Regions from separate parts of the Homo sapiens genome. Here regions 1 and 3 are each linked to region 2. The links come from fine-mapping of genetic effects on gene expression. A gene starts in region 2. Each other region holds a variant in brackets. All regions are shown on one strand. Distances are between the middles of the regions. Region 1 overlaps CLK3-AS1 (CLK3 antisense RNA 1). Region 2 holds the start of EDC3 (enhancer of mRNA decapping 3). Region 3 overlaps ARID3B (AT-rich interaction domain 3B).

Region 1 (4,181 bases), 88 kb before region 2:
GCCGAGGGCCCAGCCCTCTGTCACTCCACTACCTTCTCACTGACATTGCCCACTGCAAGTCCTCAGACTTGACCAAAGAATATAGCCCATCCAGGCGCTGAGGATATATCTTCTGACCCTCAAGGGTCTGGTTTGAGAAATAGACAAAAACAAACAAACAAAAAAAAAAAACAACAAAACAAAAAACTGAGATTTTCCTCTGTACAAATATATAGTGGCAGACTACACTGCAGACTTAAGGAACAGCCCCCTATGAGCACAGTTGTGTACCCATTTGAGATACACTGATTTAGACCAACTCAACCTTTATGAGGCCCAAAGCCAGCTAAGCTTTCTCTCCTTTTCCTTCCATCGAGATCAGCAGATCAGCTTCAGTCAGGTGCCTTGTGGCAGAGCGTGGATCCCACATGGGGTCCTTAGAATACTACTTCCCTATGGCTCCCAGGCACCTCGTTGGTGTCTGTATCTCTCTCTGTGTCTGTGTGTGTGCATATCTGGGGGTGTCTGCAGATGTCTGATGTGTATCCTGGGGGTGTGTGTGTGCATGCATGTCTGTGTGTCTGTCTGTCCATGCACACATACACTTGCCCAGGAGACTAAGGGATGCTGACCAGGAGAAGGCAGCCACCAAGCTGGAGGTGAAGTCAGGTGGACAGGAGCTGGGACATCTAAACCCTAGATCTGGCCCCTGTCCCATGTCCATAGTAACCCCCTCACCCACTCTCCTTCTCAAGTGGATCAGGGGCTATTTACAACACTCCTCCCCTGTCTCTCTGGGTATATGTATGTGCAGTTTCCTCTTGCTGAAATGCCCTTCATTTCCTCTCTCCTCCTGGAAAATGCCTGTCTATCCTTGTGTGAGGGTTCAGAGGCTCAGAAACCCCTTCTCTGGGAGGGACTCTCCTATCTGCCACCCCTTAACCAGCTCCCACTGTGCCTCTTCCCTCATCTGGCACATTAAATTATTACTTGCAAAATAGGCACAGTGGTTCATGCCTGTAGTCTCAGAACTTTGGGAGGCCAAGGTGGGAGAACTGCTTGAGGGTCAGAAGTTCAAGACCACCCTGGGCAATGTAGTGAGACCCCCATCTCTACAAAAAAAAAAAAAAAAAAAAAAACTTAGCCAGGCATGGTGATGCGTGCCTGCAGTCCCAGCTACCTGAGGCAGGAGGATCGCTTGAGTCCAGGAGTTTGAAGCTGCAGTGAGTTATGATTGCACCACTGCACCTCAGTCTGGGTGACAGAGACCCTGATGCAATCAATCAATCGATTATAAATCAATCAATAATAAATAAATAATTGCTTACTCAATTACCGGGTGCCCCCAAACCATAAGCTGTTGAGGACAAGGAGTGATCTGATTTGACATTGCTTCTGCACACAGAAGAGGGCCAGGCATGTAGCAGATGCTCAATAAATGCATGCTGAAAACATGGATGGAGAATGATGGGGCATGATGAGGAAGAGGCAGAAAATGGGAAGGAAGTATAGGATCAAGATGGGGGCATCCTAAGGAGGGGTAAGAGACTAATTGGTTTGTATGGGAAAGACTGGGCAGTGGGGAAGACAATGGGGAGAACGGGGTTGAGGGGGTGGAGAAGAAGGTGGGAGA[CA/C]GTGCCCACCTGGGGAGGCCAGGTCCCACTCTGCCTCTGGAGTCTCTGCAGTTCCTCCTCTTTAAATTTCAGGGCAACTGCCAGCCGGTGCCAGCGTGCCTTCCAATATTCAGCCATCTCCTCATGAAGCCTGGGATGTGATTCTTGTGCCTCTAGCTCTTTCCTGAGGGGCACTGGTACCTCCAGGACCTGGAGTGTACTGGAAGAAATGGTGCAGTCCAGGTACAGCATGGACCCCAGATCACCCCCACCCCACTCCCTTTCAGTGATTATTGTCTTATGAACTAGGAGGGGGAGTGGGGCAGAGATGCCTCTTTCATGGCTCCCTGCACACACAGAACCCCTTTGTACTGGGCACTTCTACTCCCAAGGACCCTGACTTGCACCCAGCAGCTAAGGTCATCTCACCCCCACCTCCCACCTGCCCCTGGGCCAGCAGGAGGGGCTTGGCCATATGTAGGCGAGACAGGACTTCTTGAAGCTGAAAGATTTCCCACCCCATAAAAGAGCCAGAATGTGACAACCAGGAGCGCTGATACCTGGGGAAGGGAGACTGGCTCTGGTCGTGTGATTCCGGGTTTAGGGCTCTGGGCCATTCCCCCTCAGCCAGCTGGTGACAGAGACTGGCCCACCGCCTGCTGAGAGGGCCATCTCACCTACAGTGAGAACAGAGCCCCCACCCCAGCCTGGCTTGGACACTCTGAGGATGGGCCCAAGCAGCCACCTACCAGGACTCTTGGCCCGGGGCCACACCCAGTGCTGCTAGCAGCCCCACCTTCTCCTGAAGTAGCCAGGTGTGCTCTGCCTCCAGGGCCTGCAATGGCCCCCCAACACCATCTGCTCTCCCTGCAGATGCTGCAGCTGCTCCAAGCAGGCCCCTAGTTGCTGGTGGCTCTGGCCCAGCTCTTCTGAGTCTCTTGTTCACCTGGGGAGATCCCCACCCCACCGAGTTGTGGCTCAGCCTCCACCAGGGTTGTGGAGCTCCAGCCTTTACCCATGCAGCCCCTCCTCAGAGGCCCCGAACTCCACTTCCTCTGGGTCTCAGCCCTTCCAGGAGGCCTCTCTGACCACCCCAGCCCGCAGAGGCTTCTCTACACTCCAGGCTACGACTCTGGACCAGTGCCTGGCTGCACACTAGCAGGGGGGCCAGTTATGTGAAGATGAGGATGGTGCTCTCTGGAGTGTCACTGTGTGGACGCCCTGCTAGAATCTCTCTCTCCTGGTCATTCTCCTTTCCTCTGTGCCCCTAGAGCCCCTTGCCCTACATTGGAATCCCCCAGGAATGGGGCCCAGGCTCCCTTGCCTCTGCCCCCTGGTACAGATGGGCATGGCCTGGATCAGCTAATGCCCAGATTCCCTTTCCTGTGGGGCTGCCCCTGCCAGCTGTCTTGACCAACCTCAGTGAGTATCAGCAACTGCTCCTGCAGACGGACTGTGTCCTGAGCCTGGGCAGGGGTCTCAGCTGCTGGCATGGAGACTCTGGGTCCCGAAGCTCCTGGGCCCTGCCTCCATCCCAGCTCTGCTCTTGGATCTGCAGGCCTGGCACCAGCATCTCCTGTAGATACACTTGGTCCAGAATCCTGGGGTCTCCTTCCAGCTTCCAGACCACACTGGGGTGGTCTTGGCAGACCGTTGATGCCTCAGGGCATGTTGTGGCAGGGTCCTGGCCCCAACTCAAGTTATGACTCTGAACAAGCTCTCCTCTGCTCTCTGGTCTCAGTTTTCCCATCTGAACCAGGAGGGAAGTCACTGAATGATCCCAGGGTATTCCCAAATGTTGGAAGAGGATCCCTCTCTTGGCTGGACTAAGCCCCTGCGCTGCCTTCCTTCTCTAGATAATGCTTCAATAATGAGGACCAGAGAATAAAGTGTGGGGCAGAGTCAAAGGTACAGCAGGGCCAGTGCGCAGGGCCTGCCATGCACCCACTTGGGGGATCCCCAGGCTGGGCTCTGGGCCAACAGGCTGTTGGGTCATTTGGTCCAAATGCCGCTAGGCCTTTTCCACTTCTGTCTGCAGCAGCAGGATCCTGTGGGTAGAAGGGATGGTCTGCCTGTTCCCTGCCACCCCACCCCTCCCCCACAGCCCAGCCCCACTCACTTGTCTTCTATGTTCTGGTCTGGCCTCCTCCACTCAGCCTGTCCCTGGGATCCCTGCATCTGGTGCCTCTCCTGCTCCAGGCAGGCCAGGGAGCACTCCACCTGCTAGGAGGAGGCTGAGTGGGAGGGCTGAAGGCAGCACAGAGCCTCAGATAGGTAGGGCTAGCTTCCCTGCCTCCCACCAGGCAGGGCAGTGTCTGCAGCCTTTGATAACGCAGGCGGACTGGCAGCCAGCAGCCCAGCTGACAGCCCAACATGGACCCATGCCCTGGCTTATATACAAGGGACTGTGCCCTGGGGCCCTGAGGGGCTGCTTTTGGCTGTTATCTATCACGACAGGCTCCAGCTGTGCATCTCTACCTCCAGCTGGGCCCGAGATACACCGCCTCTCCAGCTGCTCTCCAGCTGCTGACAGCTTCAGGGTGGAGGCCAGCAGGACTGCTGTGGCATGCTAAAGGGCAGGCAGACATG
Region 2 (4,181 bases):
CTTTTCTTTTTTTGAGAAGTTTAGTTCTTGTTGCCCAGGCTGGAGTGCAGTAGCATATCTTGGCTCACTGCAACCTCTCCCTCCCAGGTTCAAGCGTTTCTCCTGCCTCAGCCTCCCAAATAGCTGGGATTATAGGCACCCACCACCACCCAGCTAAGTTTTGTATTTTTAGTACATACGGGGTTTCACCACGTTGCCCAGACTGGTCTCCAACTCCTGACCTCAGGTGATCCACCCGCCTCAGCATCCCAAAGTGCTGGGATTACTGGCGTGAGCCACAGTGCCCGGCCTTAATATTTTTCAAACTATACGTCATGACCTATTAGGGGTCAGACTCAATTTAGTGAGTTGCAACCAATATTTTTTTAGAGTGCATCTTCTGTAGAAAGGGTAAGTAAACTTTTCATTGGTGTGTGTGTGTGTGTACACACTGAGTGTGCAGGGGCACAATAAGTCATGATGTATAATATATCTAACTGTGGGTCACAGGTAAAAAATTTTGAGACACTTTTCTAGCCCCACAGCCCTATGCCAAGGAGGCTCTACCAAGAAATTGGTAATAAACAAAATGTCATGTTTTTACATCATACAGAGAAACTAGCTAAGAGGATTTTGTGCTCAGTACACGTAATCTGCCATTCATTAAAAAAAAAAAAAAAGATTAGGATCCATCTGGGTGTCCAGTTGAAATACTAAACTGCTTGGAGACAGCCATTTCTGTTTTGGTGGGGTGAAGACCTGTATTTGAGACAGCAGACTGAAATCGGTTTGGTCTGTGGCGAAGGAAGAGAAGAAAAACCATTCTGGGTCGCGAGTTCCTCACCTGTAACCACAGGAGAAGACTGTTGGCTTGGTCAGTTGATTTTCAACTAATCTCCCAATTGAAGAGTTAGGCGAAGCAATTGCTATTGGGAGATTAACTGAAAATTAACTGACCAAGCCAACAAGGACTATGCCTCCCACAAACCAAAACACTTTAACCACTCAGCAAGTCAAGTATTGATACATACAATCAATATCACACAAAGTGTACTGAAAAGAACCACAGACTTGCATCAAAGGCAGAAATGAATCCAGGGATAACTTCCTGGGATTCGAAGATGTGACCTGGTAGGTATAAATTTCTCAGGCATCCTCTTTTTCTACCCTCCAGTTCATCTCCGTCCTCAAGCTATCAGTCATGGATGTGGCACTGGCGTTCTTCTCTGCCACCGTATCTCATTATGCAAAGGGAAACTGAGGCACGAAGAACAGAGTGAGTGAGCCAAAGAACTGCAGCAGCCACCAACAAGGCTGGACTAAGGGCCCAAGCAGCTAATGCCTCACTCCCCACACAATCCCCATACTATTTAGAATCCTGCAGTCCTCAGCCTTCCACCTCAAACCAAACTCCTGGGGCCGCCCGTAGTACGTGGTCCCCTGCTCATCCGATGAAGCCCCCAGCTCTTGCCTGCCTGCCTGCCTCTATAAAGGTCTACGAGGCCTGGAACTCTGAAGCCTAAAGCAACCCCGGCAGCCCCCTCCCACGACCGTCCACAAACCAGTAGCCTCCCTTCGCTCCCACCTCCGCGCCGACGGGCCTGGAGCTCCTCCGCACACCACACCAAGCCGACCACTCAACACCAGAGGACCCACAGAAGAATTCTCTCCACGCCCACCCCCACAGCATCGGCCTTCACCACCGCCGCCGCTGCCGGAAGCGCCCCCACGTCTCCACGCCACCACCGTGAGGTCACTTCCGGCGCGACACCTTGGAATCCAGGGCCGTCAATTGAGGGGCGTGGCACCCGGGAAATTTAAGAGGTTGGAAGAACGTCCCTTCGGCCTTACAGAATTGCGCTTGGGTAGTCATTTTGCCCTCCACGCTTACTTATGTCCTGTGGCGTCTTGGCTGGAATCGGGGCTCTACCCACGACTCCCCAGCCTCGATGCCTGGGCCCCCCTCTTGCAGGCTCGATGAAAAGCACCCGCTTCCCCTCCTGTTACCCCAGCGCCAATCGCAGAGCTGGAGCGGAGGACTTTCAGGGAGGCCTGGTGACGTGACAGCCCCTCCGTGCTAAACTGCAGCTGTGGGACTTAATAAGTGCGACAACCCCCTGATGGATTAAAGAAAACAAGATATTCCTGCCGTGGTCGATCTTCAAAGCGTATCAGCTTCAGCCCTTTTGGGGGTTAAAATCAGCCAGTCCGTGCTTGACTGCTCTCCCTTCCCCCATACTCAGTACACAGGAAAGTGCCGCTCTTCTACCCCTGGCATTTTAGAGTCTTGATTTGTGGGGAGACGGGAAAGCATGCGTTTAGGGCCAAGACCGTGTAATGAGGAATATTGCACAGCCTTGAAGCCTGACACCTGGTTTGGGAACCACTACTTGGGCGAATAGCATAGAGTAGGGTAGCAGTTCCAAACCTAGCTCTACAAAATCAGTTGAAGAACTTTGTAAAATCTACACTTTCTAGGGGACTGCTTCACCCTTCCCCCTCCATCACCAGAGATTCCCTAGGTCAGAAGGGGTCCTTGTCTTTTAAAATTACTGTTATTAATGAACACTTATAGAGCAGTTTTTGGTTCAGGGCAAAACTGAACAGAAAGTACAGAGTTCCCATATATCCCCTGTACACACAGGCACATACACAACTTGTCCCCTCATGGACATCTTGTGCTACAGTGGTACATTTGGTAACAATTGATTACCCAACTTTGACACATCATTATCACCCAGAGTCCATAGTTTACATTAGAGTTTACTCTCGGTGTTGCACATTCTGTGGGTTTTGACATATATGTAATGACATGTATCCACCATTATGGTATCATACACGATAGTTTCACTGCCCTGAAAATCCTCTGTCCTCTGCCTATTTATCCTTCTCAGTCCCCTAACCACTGGCAACCACTGCTCCTTTTACTGTCTCCATAGTTTTGCCTTTTCCAGAATCCCATATAGTTGGAATCATACAGTATGCAGCCTTTTCACATCGGATTCTTTCACTTATGCACTTAAAGTTCTTCCATGTCTTTTCATGGCTTGATAGCTCATTTCTTTTTTGTGCTGAATAATAATATTCCATCGTCTGGATGTGCTGCGGTTTATCCATTCACCTACTGAAAGACATCTTGGTGGCCTCCAAGTTTGGGTAATTATGAATAAAGCCGCTATACATCATGTGCAGATTTTTGTGTAGACATGAGTTTTCAATTCATCTGGGTAAATACCAAGGAGTGCAACTGCTGGATTGGATGGTATATTTAGTTTTGGGAGAAACTACCAAACTGCCTTTCAAAGTGGCTGCATCATTTTGCATTCCCACAGCAGTGAATGAGGGTTTCTGTTGCTCCACATCCTTGTCAGCGTTTTGTGGTGTCAGTATTTTGCCGTTCAAGTAAGTGTGTAGTAGTATCTTATTGTTTTAATATGCAATTCCCTAATGACATATGATATTGAACATCTTTTCATATACTTACTTGCCATGTGTATATCTTCTTTGATGAAGTGTTCATTCAGGTATTTTGCCCATTTTTACATTGTGTTATTTTCTTGTTGTGATTTAAGAGTTCTGGGTATATTGTAGATAACAGTCCTCTATCAGATACGTCTTTTATAATATTTTCTCCTAGTCTGTGGCTTGTCTTCTCATTCTTCTTTTGAAGAGCAGAAGTTTTAAATTTTAATGAAGTCCAGCTTATCAATTATATTTTTCACAGATTATGCTATTGGTATTGCCCTAAAGTCATTGCCATTCCCAAGATCAGTTAGGTTTTCTCCTGTGTTGTCTTCCAGGAGTTTTATAGTGTTCCATTTTACATTTAGGTCTACAATCCATTCTGAGTTAATTTTTATGAAGGGTGCAAGGTCTTTGCCTAGATAATTTTTTTTTTTTTTTTGAGACGGAGTCTCACTCTGTTGCCCAGGCTGGAGTGCAGTGGCACGATCTCAGCTCACTGCAATGTCTGCCTCCTGGGTTCAAGTGATTCTCCTGTCTCAGCCTCCCAAGTAGCTGGGATTACAGGCACCCGCCACCACACCTGGCTAGTTTTTGTATTTTTAGTAGAGGCAAGGTTTCACCATGTTGGCCAGGCTGGTCTCGAACTCCTGATCTCAATTGATCTGCCCACCTCGGCCTCTCAAAGTGCTGAGATTACAGGCGTGAGCCACCGTACCCGGCCTGATACATTTTTATGT
Region 3 (4,181 bases), 100 kb before region 2:
TGAGTTCCCCAGCCGAGCTCCAGGCAGCAATTGATGGCAACCGCAGGGAGGGCCGGCGGCCCAGCTACAGCTCCTCCCTCTTTGGCTACTCACCTGCTGCGGCTACTGCTGCTGCCGCTGCCGGGGCCCCTGCCCTTCTCTCCCCACCCAAGATCCGCTTTCCCATCCTTGGGCTTGGCTCCAGCAGTGGTACCAATACCAGTAGCCCTCGGATATCCCCAGCAACCACTCTCAGGAAAGGTCAGCAGGGCTCCTGGGGGAGAAGGAAGAAAGGGAGGAAGGGATGCCAGTTCCCTGTGTTCAAGACTGGGGTTTTGGGGCAAGAGGGTCAATTGTGGATTGGTCCAGCTCCAGTTCCTTTGCAGGTGATGGAGCCCCAGTGACAACAGTGCCTGTGCCAAATCGTCTGGCTGTGCCCGTGACCTTGGCAAGCCAGCAGGCTGGTACTCGGACCGCCGCACTGGAGCAGCTGCGGGAGCGGCTGGAGTCAGGGGAGCCTGCTGAGAAGAAGGCATCGAGGCTGTCTGAGGAGGAGCAGCGCCTGGTGCAGCAGGCCTTCCAGCGCAACTTTTTCAGCATGGCACGGCAGCTCCCCATGAAGATCAGGATCAACGGCAGGGGTGAGCCAGGCTCAGGGCCGGGCCTTCCCTTCCTGGAAACCCCAAGCCCATTCACGCCTCCTGGGACTGGTGGGGCAGGGGTGGTGAGGCACATACTCCTGACCTGGAAGAGGCCCCTCCAGGTTCTGCCTTCCAGGCCCCTAGAAGAGAGGCACTGAGATCTTAGTTCACCAAGCTGAGGTTGTTTGGTAGAGGGGACCACATGTTGCCTCAGGCAGTGCCCTGTTCTCTAGTAAGAGGGAAAAGCAGTTATTCACAGAGGAGGAGCCAGAGGCCTTCAGAGAGCTGCTGCGTTTCCCCACCAGCCATTACCCCAGCACCTCACTGGATGTAGGCAAGAGCAGGGCACCGTCTGCAGGTCTGGGAGGAAGACACCCCATGTTCCTGAGGCTCAGCGAGGGGCCAAGTTGCCCCGGGCTGGACAGTGGGACTCAGGAATATAGACAGAAGGAGGAAACACAAGTTTGGCAGCATAATTGACATCCTTTCCCTTCCTCTTCACATTGTTCTGGTGCCCCACATTCTCTTCCTCAAGCCACACGCCCCTTTTCCCATTCACACACATTCTTTCCCATTCTGGTCCTGATGCTATCTCAAAGCAAACATGAATGAGATGTGTGGGAAGGAGCCAGGTGTGAAGGGAGCTATACATATTCCCAGGCTGCCCCTCCTACCCCATTGCCCTTGGGGACCAGAAGGAAACTGGGAGGTAACAGCTCATCCAGGGCCAGGTACCCTGCTCCTGCACAAAGCAAAGGGCTGTTAGAAAAGACAGCTCACCGGGAAGAATTCTGAGTCTGGGGTGAGCCAGCCAAAGGCCGTGTGTGCCAGCACTTGCAGGCTTCCACAAACGCCAGCTGCCTGGGTGGTCATGGAGGGGAGGGGCTGAGGGCGTAGACTCCTCTCTCTGAGGGACTCAGAGTCAAAGGAAAGAAAGGGCAGGTGGGTCCTCAAAGTTGGGGCTGGGTCTCATTGATCTCTGATTTCCTGGGCCTGGTGTATAGTGTAGTTCAGGGTTTGCCCGTCACTTGGAAAGTGCCAGTGCAGAGTGGTGGGGCCGGAGCCGGCCTCCTTGCCTACTGTGATTCCTTTTCTCTGGGAGCAGAGGTAGTTGAGGGGATGAACTGGGTCAGTGGAAAAAGCCAGCAACAGGAGATTGGCGAGCCTGGGATCTCCTGCCATACCCTACACTCAGGAGAAGGTTACATAGATGCCTTTTAACAGCGTGAGGCTTTGACCAGGGGTGGCCAGGCAGCATCAGAGAGGACAACAGGAGTGCTGTGGAAGGCTTGACCAGGCCCACTGTCTCCCTGTCCCCAGCAGAAGACAGAGCAGAGGCCTCGGCTGCAGCACTGAACCTGACCACGAGTAGCATTGGGAGCATTAACATGTCTGTGGACATCGATGGCACCACCTATGCAGGTGAGGCCCTGGAGCTCTGGGGGAGGCCCACGTGGCCGCAGCTAGCCACAGGGCAGCTCTGCGGCTGGCCCTGCCTCTTACCCTCTGTCTGAACACCTCCCACAGTGGCTTCCTTTTTCCTGGTCTCAGAGTTGCAAAGGTCAAGTGGTCCTCTGGACTAGTAGACTGTGGATTGTTAACAGGATGATAGGTCCCTCCCACTTTGGCAGAAACCCTTCACCTAACCCTTTTAGACCAGTGGTTGGCTCGTTAATTGAAGAAGTCAGTCAGTGTCCCACAATCCCCAGGTCTTCTCATGCACAGCCTTTCTCTGACTGTAATTCAGCTCTTCTCTTCCTTTTGCAGACTGAGACACAGGCAAAGGAACCCC[A/G]GTATAGGAGAATCAGCTTACATTGTTAAGCTCCCTGCCCCCCAGTCTTTTACAGTTATCTTTTCCTAAACCTAATTTGGCAACAGTGTTTTGTTGGTTGGTTGATTTCGCACCTTTACAGAGTCTTTCTAAGGGTTTAACTTAGTATTCATGACTGGGCACGGTGGCTGATGCCTGTAATCCTTGCACTTTGGGAGGCTGAGGCAAGAGGACCACTTGAGCCCAGGAGTTTGAGACCAGCCTGAGCAACATAGCAAAATCCCAAATCTACAAAATACAAAAAAAAATAGCCAGGCATGGTGGTGCACACCTGTGGTCCCAGCTACTTGGGAGGCTGAGGCCAGGAGGATCACTTGAGCCCAGGAGGTCGAGGCTGCAGTAAGCCGTGATTGTACCACTGCATTCCAGCCTGAGTGACAAAGCAAGACCTTGTCTCAATTAAAAAAAAAAAAAACAAAACTTAATATTCATAAAAACAGCAGTCCTTTTCCCATTCCCATTTCATTGGTTTACGGACGAGCTTGGGAACAAGCCCACCTGACTCTTGTTAAGCACAGCATTGCTGGGCGCGGTGGCTCACGCCTGTAATCCCAGCATTTTGGGAGGCCAAGGCGGGTGGATCACGAAGTCAGGATATCGAGACCATCCTGGCTAACACAGTGAAACCCCGTCTCTACTAAAAATACAAAAAGTTAGCCAGGCGTGGGGGCGGGTGCCTGTAGTCCCAGCTACTCGGGAGGCTGAGGCAGGAGAATGGCGTGAACCTGGGAGGCAGAGCTTGCAGTGAGCTGAGATCGCGCCACTGCACTCCAGCCTGGGCGACAGAGTGAGACTCCGTCTCAAAAAAAAAAAGCACAGTATTATGAGTGGGGGCCACCAGGCCTGGCCCAGGGCATCACCCACCTGTTTTACCAAGGGCCCAAGGGCATGCGGAGTGTCAGCCAGCCTGGCAAGGTGTCTCGTGGAGACAGGCGAAAGCCCTACAACTGCACCTTCTATCACAACTGGGAGTGTTTCCTCAGGGCCTACTCCCATTCTAAGGGCCACACTCCCTCAGAGCACCGCCCTGCAGGCCTCCTGGGAGCATGCTCTGGATCTCTGCTGGGCCACTCACTTCAGAGAGAGGACAGAGTGTAGAGGAGCAGTGGTGCCAAGTGGGCTCACCAGTCATGCTATGTCTGCAGACTCTGCTCAGAGGTCTCTACCTGTCACAGGAGGCCCCTGGAGGAGGTGGGGCCTGGTGCCCTTTGCCTCTTCATTGTGCTGTGGTTTGGGAGGGTTGGGGGTTGGAATTAGGTCCATGGAGAAAGCAGGGAAGTAGGAATTCAAGGCCTGGATCTTGATATCCTTTTGTCCTCTGTCAAGGAGAAAGGAGAAGGTAACTCCTTCCCTCTCAGAATGAGGAAGGGTCAGAAGTTGAAGGCTCCTCAAACCCCTGACAAGAAGGGAGCCAGTCACCCACCCCACCTGGCTCTGTCACCCAGGCTGGAGTGCATTGGTGCGGTCATAGCTCACTGCAGCTTCAACCTCCTGGGCTCAAGTGATCCTCCTGCCTCAGCCCCCTGAGTAGCTGGGACTACCCATGCCCAGCTAATTTTAAAAAAAATTTTTATAGAGACAAGGCTCTTGCTGTATTGCCCAGTCTGGTCTCAAACTCCTGGCCTTGAGCTATTCTCCTGCCTCACCCTCCCAAAGTGCTGGGATTATAGTTGTGAGCCACCACACCTGGCCTTGGTGTTCCTCTTTGTGTACCCTGGGTACACCTTGTC

Evidence for each region.
Region 1: its variant is fine-mapped to the expression of EDC3 in whole blood (TOPMed, PIP 0.99).
Region 3: its variant is fine-mapped to the expression of EDC3 in whole blood (TOPMed, PIP 0.98).

Annotation. Positions count from the first base shown.
Region 1 is chr15:74,606,592-74,610,772 of GRCh38, forward strand. CLK3-AS1 (CLK3 antisense RNA 1) reads right to left here. Exons shown (of 9, transcript XR_007064715.1): 2 at 3,712-3,812; 3 at 3,011-3,640; 4 at 1,623-2,538; 5 at 1,308-1,424. It also overlaps a transcript of CLK3 not described here. Among named protein-coding and RNA genes, the nearest start is that of CLK3-AS1, 7.1 kb to the right of the region's middle. The variant CA/C (reference allele first, on the strand shown) is at 1,613.
Region 2 is chr15:74,694,316-74,698,496 of GRCh38, forward strand. It overlaps EDC3 (enhancer of mRNA decapping 3), which reads right to left and starts at 1,709. Exons shown (of 7, transcript NM_025083.5): 1 at 1,565-1,709. RefSeq lists an enhancer at 1,669-1,758.
Region 3 is chr15:74,591,195-74,595,375 of GRCh38, forward strand. It overlaps ARID3B (AT-rich interaction domain 3B), which reads left to right. Exons shown (of 9, transcript NM_006465.4): 6 at 1-240; 7 at 366-620; 8 at 1,944-2,042. Among named protein-coding and RNA genes, the nearest start is that of CLK3-AS1, 23 kb to the right of the region's middle. RefSeq lists an enhancer at 3,322-3,822. The variant A/G (reference allele first, on the strand shown) is at 2,413.